Linked DNA regions of Homo sapiens. The protein of the gene in region 2 purifies or fractionates together with the protein of the main gene of each other region. This does not show direct contact. Each region holds a gene or a part of one and is shown on either strand. Other genes may lie near its edges.

The links. The genes of interacting proteins can lie anywhere in the genome.
Region 1: the proteins of PLAAT3 (region 2) and OCLN purify together in Homo sapiens (affinity purification with mass spectrometry; one large-scale study listed by BioGRID and IntAct). This does not show direct contact.

Annotation. Positions count from the first base shown.
Region 1 is NC_000005.10:69,502,726-69,506,375, forward strand, and holds part of OCLN (occludin), read left to right. Parts: intron 1-1,451; 5' UTR 1,452-1,519; coding exon 1,520-1,569; intron 1,570-3,650. UniProt on the Homo sapiens protein: May play a role in the formation and regulation of the tight junction (TJ) paracellular permeability barrier.
Region 2 is NC_000011.10:63,604,338-63,607,987, forward strand, and holds part of PLAAT3 (phospholipase A and acyltransferase 3), read right to left. Parts: intron 1-3,650. UniProt on the Homo sapiens protein: Exhibits both phospholipase A1/2 and acyltransferase activities. Shows phospholipase A1 (PLA1) and A2 (PLA2) activity, catalyzing the calcium-independent release of fatty acids from the sn-1 or sn-2 position of glycerophospholipids.

The DNA.
Region 1 (3,650 bases), on a different chromosome or scaffold from region 2:
CCTCAAGCTTTATAGGTTAGGGGGTTGTGTGTTTACCACATCTTGCTGAGACTTGTCTTTTTCCTGGAGAGCTCTCAGTGCCCATGGATCCACCTACGGACGTAGGCAGATGACCTCCATCTTCACTTCCTCATGGATGCTAACACCAGATGTGCACTCCCCACAAAAACTGGTGTTTCCCAAATGGAACTCATTGTTTCAAACTAGCATAGTGAAAAGCACATGAAATCATCTGGGTTCAAGTTACATCTGAGTGACTCACTGACATCCATATAACCTTGAGCATATTACTTCACATCTCTTTCTGACCCTCTTTGCATCTGTAAAGTGACTAATCAACCATGGAGGGTCGTTTTGAGGATGAAAGGAGGTTTTATGTAAAGCACCCAGCACGTCGGTAGGTGTCTGATGAATGTTAGTTTCCTTCCTATCTTCTGTCTCCTAAGCTAGTCCTTCATTGTTGCCTCACACCTAGGTTTGCTGCTGCTGACTGTAGGTGCTCCTTTTTACTGTTGACTTTGTCTTTCAAATCTGGTTCAAATCAAACTTACACCTCCCTTGCCGAGAATCACGAACTGGCTCCCTGTTTCCTACCTGAAGGAAGTGAGACACTCCCACTAGACTTTCAAAGCCCTCCCTTTTCTTACTCATCCTCCATCCACTATATTCTTACTGTAACCTTATTTTAAAAGATGACACCATTCCACCATGCTCCCACTTCACTGTTCCATAAGCTAGCCACCTGTGTTATCAGCACCACACCAGCCTGGAAGAGCCAGGACCCCAGCGCTGGCTGTCATACGTCACTCCCACAGGCTCTCCTGGTCTAGTGTAGGCACTTAATAAATGCTTGTTGAGTGAAATTTCTCCTCAGATGTTTAGGAACTTGTGCTGAAGAATTTTAGGACAAAATTTCAGAAAATGACCAATTAATACCATGCATATTGTTTTTTCTCCCCTTGTATAAAAATTGTGCTCAGTTTCGAAGACTTGGAAAAGGAGATAAGGGAAAAATATCTACAATTCCACCATTTATAGATGCATTTTATTATCATTTTTAATGATAAAGGCATTTAACCCATTAGATGGTTACTTTGCATTGAGGAGCTAGTATGTGCTAGTGCGGCTATATGTGCACTTTCTTATACATTCTCATTTAATATGAACTTTCAAAAGTAATATGAAATTATATATATTTCAAATTTTTGTACAAAAAATACAGGAATTAGCCAGGCATGGTGGTGCAGGTCTGTAGTCCTAGCTACTTGGGAGGCTGAGGTAGGAGGAGTACTTGAGCCTGGTAGATCAAGGCTGCAGTGAGCTGTGATTGGACCACTGCACTCCAGCCTGGGTGACAGGGTGAGACCCTGTCTCGGGGTGGGGGTGGGATGAAGAAAAGAAAGAAACTGTGAGCTTAGTAGTAATGCCATAACTCTACTTTTGTTGCTTAGATTGGTTTATCTTGGAAGCTAAAGGGCATTGCTCATCCTGAAGATCAGCTGACCATTGACAATCAGCCATGTCATCCAGGCCTCTTGAAAGTCCACCTCCTTACAGGCCTGATGAATTGTAAGTAAATAATTCTTTAGTTATTCTCTTTTAAAAAGTCTATCACATGTAAACAATAAGTATGGTTGAAACTTTAAGTGTTTGCTTTTAAAAATAAAACGATATGTGTACTTGTAAATTTAAATTGTATCAAAGGGTCTGCACTGAAAACTGAATTTCTCTCAACTTTCAGAATGACAGTTTGTCTCTGCTAGGACAACTGCTGTCACCTATTCCTAATGTTTGTTTCAAGAGATTGCCAAGGTTTATATTTGTATGTTCCTTTTTGTTTTGTACAAATGATAATGAAGCTTCCATTTAAATGCCTCATTTAGGTGGCCATTGGGAACATATTGTCAGTTTTTAAAAATAACAGCTTTAGGCCGGGTGCGGTGGCTCACGCCTGTAATCCCAGCACCTTGGGAGGCCGAGGCTGGCGGATCACAAGGTCAAGAGATCGAGACCATCCTGGCCAACATGGTGAACTCCCGTCTCTACTAAAAATACAAAAATTAGCTGGCTGTGGTGGCGCGCACCTCTAATCCCAGCTACTTGCCTGTAATCCCAGCTACTTGGGAGGCTGAGGCAGGAGATTCACTTGAACCCAGGAGGTGGAGGTTGCAGTGAGCCGAGATCACGCCACTGCACTCCAGCCTAGAGACAGAGCGAGACTCCGTCTGAAAAAAAGAAAAAAGGCCAGGCCTGGTGGCTCATGCCTGTAATCCCAGCACTTTGGGAGGCCGAGGCGGGTGGATCACCTGAGGTCGGGAGTTTAAGACCATCCTGACCAACGTGGAGAAACCCCCATCTCTACTGAAAATACAAAATTAGCCGGGCATGGTGATGCATGCCTATAATTGCAGCTATTTGGGAGGCTGAGACAGGAGAATCGCTTGAACCCAGGAGGCGGAGGTTGAGGTGAGCTGAGATGGCGCCATTGCACTCTAGACTGGGTGACAAGAGCAAAACTCCGTCTCAAAAAATAAATAAATAAATAAAAATAACAGCTTTATTGAGATATAATTAACATACTTTACAATTTACCCATTTAGAATGGATAGTTTAATGGTTTTTAGTATATTCACAGAGTTGTAGAACCATCACCACAATTAATTTTAGAACATTTCATTACTCTCCAAAGAAACCTATCCATTGGCAGTCACCTCCCAGTTCCATCAGCCCTAAGCAACTATTGGTCTACTTTCTGTCTCTATAGATTTGTCTATTCTGCATATTTTGTATAAATGGAGAAATCACGTAATATGTGGCCTTTTGTAACTGGCTTCTTTCACTTAGCATAATACTTTCCATACTGTCAGTTTTAAGAGTGATTCCTGCCATGATCTAAAACAAGCAGTGTTGAGGGGTTTTGGGCTCCTTGGTCATGTGAAGACTTATCAGTGAATTTTTGAATTCCAAATTTGCTATCAAACATTGATAGGGATTTCCTCCTCTAAGTAGTTTGCAGCTTTAACCATGATAAGTGTAGTGGAGTGTGATATAGGCAAAAACAAACAGTTTCTCCTGCTGTTCTGTCACAACACATCTGTGACCTCTGATCACCAGAATTTGTGGGGATATTTCCCCACCAGCAACCAAGTAATCAGTTCTACAGTGGACAATAGCTGTGTGTCCTCTAATTATCAGTTCAATTCTGACACTGTCAGAGATAGCATCAGATCACAGGTTCAGGGCTCATTCCCACAAGACTGCCCCCACTTCACGTAGCAGCCACAAGCTCAGGTTGTGGCCTGTGTTTCTGACCCACCTACAGTAAATCAGGATTCCCACAGTTGTCTCCTTGGGTGCAATTAATTTGCTAAAGTGGCTTGCAGAACTCAGGGAAACAGTACTTACCATTACTGGTTTATTATAAAGGGTATTACAAAAGCCAGGTGTGGTGGTGCATGCCTGTTATCCCAGCTACTCAGAAGGCTGAGGCAGGAGGATTGCTTGAGCCCAGGAGTTTGAGGCCAGCCTGGGCAACATAGGGAAACCCTGTCTTTTAAGAATGAATGAATGAATGAACAAACAAATGATATTACAATGGATGCCAACAAACACCAGATGAAGAGGTGGACAGGGCGAGGTATGTGGGAAGC
Region 2 (3,650 bases):
TTAAAAAGTATTTAAAGGGAAAAAATACTCATGTTGATGGACTTGCAGTTTTTAAGTTGGGAAATGTAGATATTGTCTGTTGCCAAACCTCATGAAACTGCCTCTCAATTGAAGGTATTAATTTTCTTTTTAATTATATTCTAGGCCGGGCGCGGGGGCTCACACCTGTAATCCCAGCACTTTGGGAGGCCAAGGAAGGTGGATCACTTGAAGTCAGGAGTTTGAGACCAGCCTGGCCAACATGGTGAAACCCTGTCTCTACAAAAAATACAAAAATTAGCCAGGCATGGTGGTACATGCCTGTAGTCCCAGCTACTCAGGAGGCTGAGGCTGGAGAATCGCTTGAACCTGAGAAGTGGAGCTTGCAGTGAGCCCAGATGATGCCATTGCACTCCAATCTAGGCGACAGAGCAAGACTGCCTCAAAAAAAAAAAAGTATTTTCTAGTTTTCCAAAATGTTTAAATAAGCATGTGTTCATTTTAGAACCAGAAATTGAGCTAAGACTTGACAGAATCAGTGGTAATCCATACAATCACTATCATGTAAAAATAGCAAAACAGACACAAGCAAAAAGACTAGAAAGCTCTATAACAATATCCTAATGGACATTCCCTCTGGTTTCTGGGTGCTGGGGCTAAGCGTGGTTTTTGTGATAATTTTTGCTTCCTTCTATTTTTCTATATATTCCAGGTCTTCTGCAATGAGTATCTTTTAAGTTTACAGCATGCTTCTCAACATTTTATCACGAAAAATTTTCAAACGTTCAAAATTGAGGCCGGGCGCAGTGGCTCACGCCTTGTAATCCTAGCACTTTGGGAAGCCAAGGTGGGTGGATCACCTGAGGTCAAGAGTGCGAGACCAGCCTGGCCAACATGGTGAAACTCCATCTCTATTAAAAATACAAAAAAAATGAGCTGGGCATGGTGGAGCACGCCTGTAATCTCAGCTACTCGGGAGGCTGAGGCAAGAGAATCGCTTAAACTCAGGAGGCAGAGGTTGCAGTGAGCCAAGATCACGCCATTGTACTCCAGCCTGGGCGACAAGAGCGAGACTGTCTCAAAAAACAAAACAAAACAAAGTTAAAGGAAGTTTTTTAATGAACGTCTGTATACCTGCCACACAGATTGTGCAATTATGTGACTGTATTTGCTTCATCACAAACATGTCCATCTATTCATTCCCTCTGTCCAGTGTCTTTTTTGTTCTTTGTTTTTGTTTTTGTTTTTGTTTTTGAGACGGAGTCTCGCACTGTCGCCCAGGCTGGAGTGCAGTGGCGCGATCTCGGCTCCCTGCAAGCTCCGCCTCCCGGGTTCACGCCATTCTCCTGCCTCAGCCTCCCGAGTAGCTGGGACTACAGGCGCCCGCCACCATGCCGGGCTAATTTTTTGTATTTTTAGTAGAGACAGCGTTTCACCATGTTAGCCAGGATGGTCTCGATCTCCTGACCTCGTGATCCACCCGCCTCAGACTCCCAAGGTGCTAAGATTACAGACATGAGCCACCGCGCCTGGCCCTTTGTTTGTTTGTTTGTTTAATTTAAGAACTAACGCACTGAGGGAGTCCCAAGCGATGTCAGGGCAATGACAACACAGCCGACCCGCGCTCTGTGCTCAAGTTCACGGGGTTCCTGACTCCAAGCCTGCAGTCTTGATCCGCAGCTGTGGTTCTCAGACCTGAGCCTGCACCAATTACAGAAGAGGGGGTTGCTGACATGCAGGATCACTATAGCTTTTTGGCAATTCCCCTCTTCCGCCATCAAGAGCGCGGTGTAAGCGGCCAACGACACCCCTGGAGAACCCCTTCACCTTGGGAGGATGCCCACCTCTGCTTTGGAGGGCCTAGAAACCCATACACTGGCTGAGCTGTGCGCCCGGCACCAATCTAGGCACCTGGGCTCTGTGATCAGGGCGTGGAGCTTTTTGTTCAGTAACAGGAGACAAAAGGTTTTTAAAAAAATACCTTAGTAGGCCGGCGCGGTGGCTCACGCCTGTAATCCCAGCACGCTGGGAGGCCGAGGCGGGTGGATCACCTGTCAGGAGTTCAAGACCAGCCTCGCCAACATGGCAAAACCCCGTCTCTACTATAAAACACACACACACACACACACACACACACACACACACACCTTAGTAAATAAGTAAATAATCTAGAATATGAGAAGAGATCCGAAACCAACAGAAAGAAACAAAAAGCAGAGCGGAGCAGGGTCGGGAGCTGAGCGCTGGTGGGGTGGGGGCACGGGGTGCAATAGGAATTAGAGAGTCAGGGAGACTCCCAGAGCAGCGAGCTGGAGGCGGCCTCGCCTGGAGGCCGGAGATGAGCCTTGCAGATGGCTAACACCTCCGGCAGGGGGAGCAGCCGAGCAAAGGCCCCAGCGGGGCGCGTGTCTGAGCAACAGCAAGGAGGCCAACGAGGCCGGAGTAGGCGTGCGGGGAGGGCAGAGGGTGGGAAGCGGGGGTAGAACGGAGGGTCCAAGAAAAGCAGCCGGTCCGGAAGGCAACGCAGCACCTGACAGCGCTACACCTTTGCCTCTGTCACTGGCAGGGGCCACTGCCAAGTTTAGAACCCAGGAGACTCAGGATCCAACTTGGGTTTTAAAAGGGTCCCTCTGGCTGCTCCGTTGAGAAGAGATGAGATGTAGGGTGCAAGGAGGAGGCGGGAGCCTGCTAGGAGGCAACTGCAGAGAGGGGGGATCTGGGCATGAGTAGTAATGGATGCTGGATCTCCTTTGAAGCTGCAGCCCACCGACTGTGCTGATGGAATGAGGTGGGGTGTGAAGGAAAGAGGAGTCAGATGACTCCAAGGTGTCTGGACAGAGCAACTGGGAGGCGGGATGGGGCTGTTTAGAGACAGAGTAGGCTGGGGGAGAACCAGGCACTCACGCTGGGCAGCGGGTATCCCAACGAGAGGCGGGGACACAGCGCACACATCAGTATGGAGCTAGGGGTCATGGTTTAGAATGAGGATCATCCGTGTTCCTTATGAGATCAGCTCCTCCTGAGAGTTGGAGGCAAAAGCCTGGCTGAAATGTGTTTGAGAGAATGGGGACACAGTGGCATGTGCCTGTAGTCCCAGCTACTCAGGAGGCTGAGGCTGGAGGATCACTTGAGCCAAGAGTTCAAGGCCAGCCTGGGAAACATGTGAGACCCCATCTCTAAAATTTAAAAAATAATAATAATAATAATAAAGAAAAGAGAGAGAATGGGAGAAGATGAACTGGAGGTGATGTCAAAGAGAGCACCTGAGCACCTGAGATTTTTGTTTCGGTCTTGAAAGATGAGGGAAACTTGTATGTGGTAGAGACATAATTTAAACCCAGATCTAAGGACATCCAAATCCTACACACCGTGCTGCAATCATAGAAGCTGGTGGGGAGGAAGTAGCCTTTATGGAGATGTACGGAGAGAGGCAAGCAGGAGATAAGGAGGAGGCGGAAGGAGAGGGCAGGCAGGGCAGGGGCTTCCACTGTGGTGAGTGGGAATCTCAAGGTGCTTTTGGGGTTTGGTCAGAAGCAGGGTTCTTGGGGTGGAGCCCAAGCCTGGAATTTTTTTTAAAGTTCCCAGGTGGGCCGGGCACAGTGGCTCACGCCTGTAATCCCAGCACTTTGGGAGGCCGAGGCAGGCAGATCACGAGGTCAGGAGATCGAGAC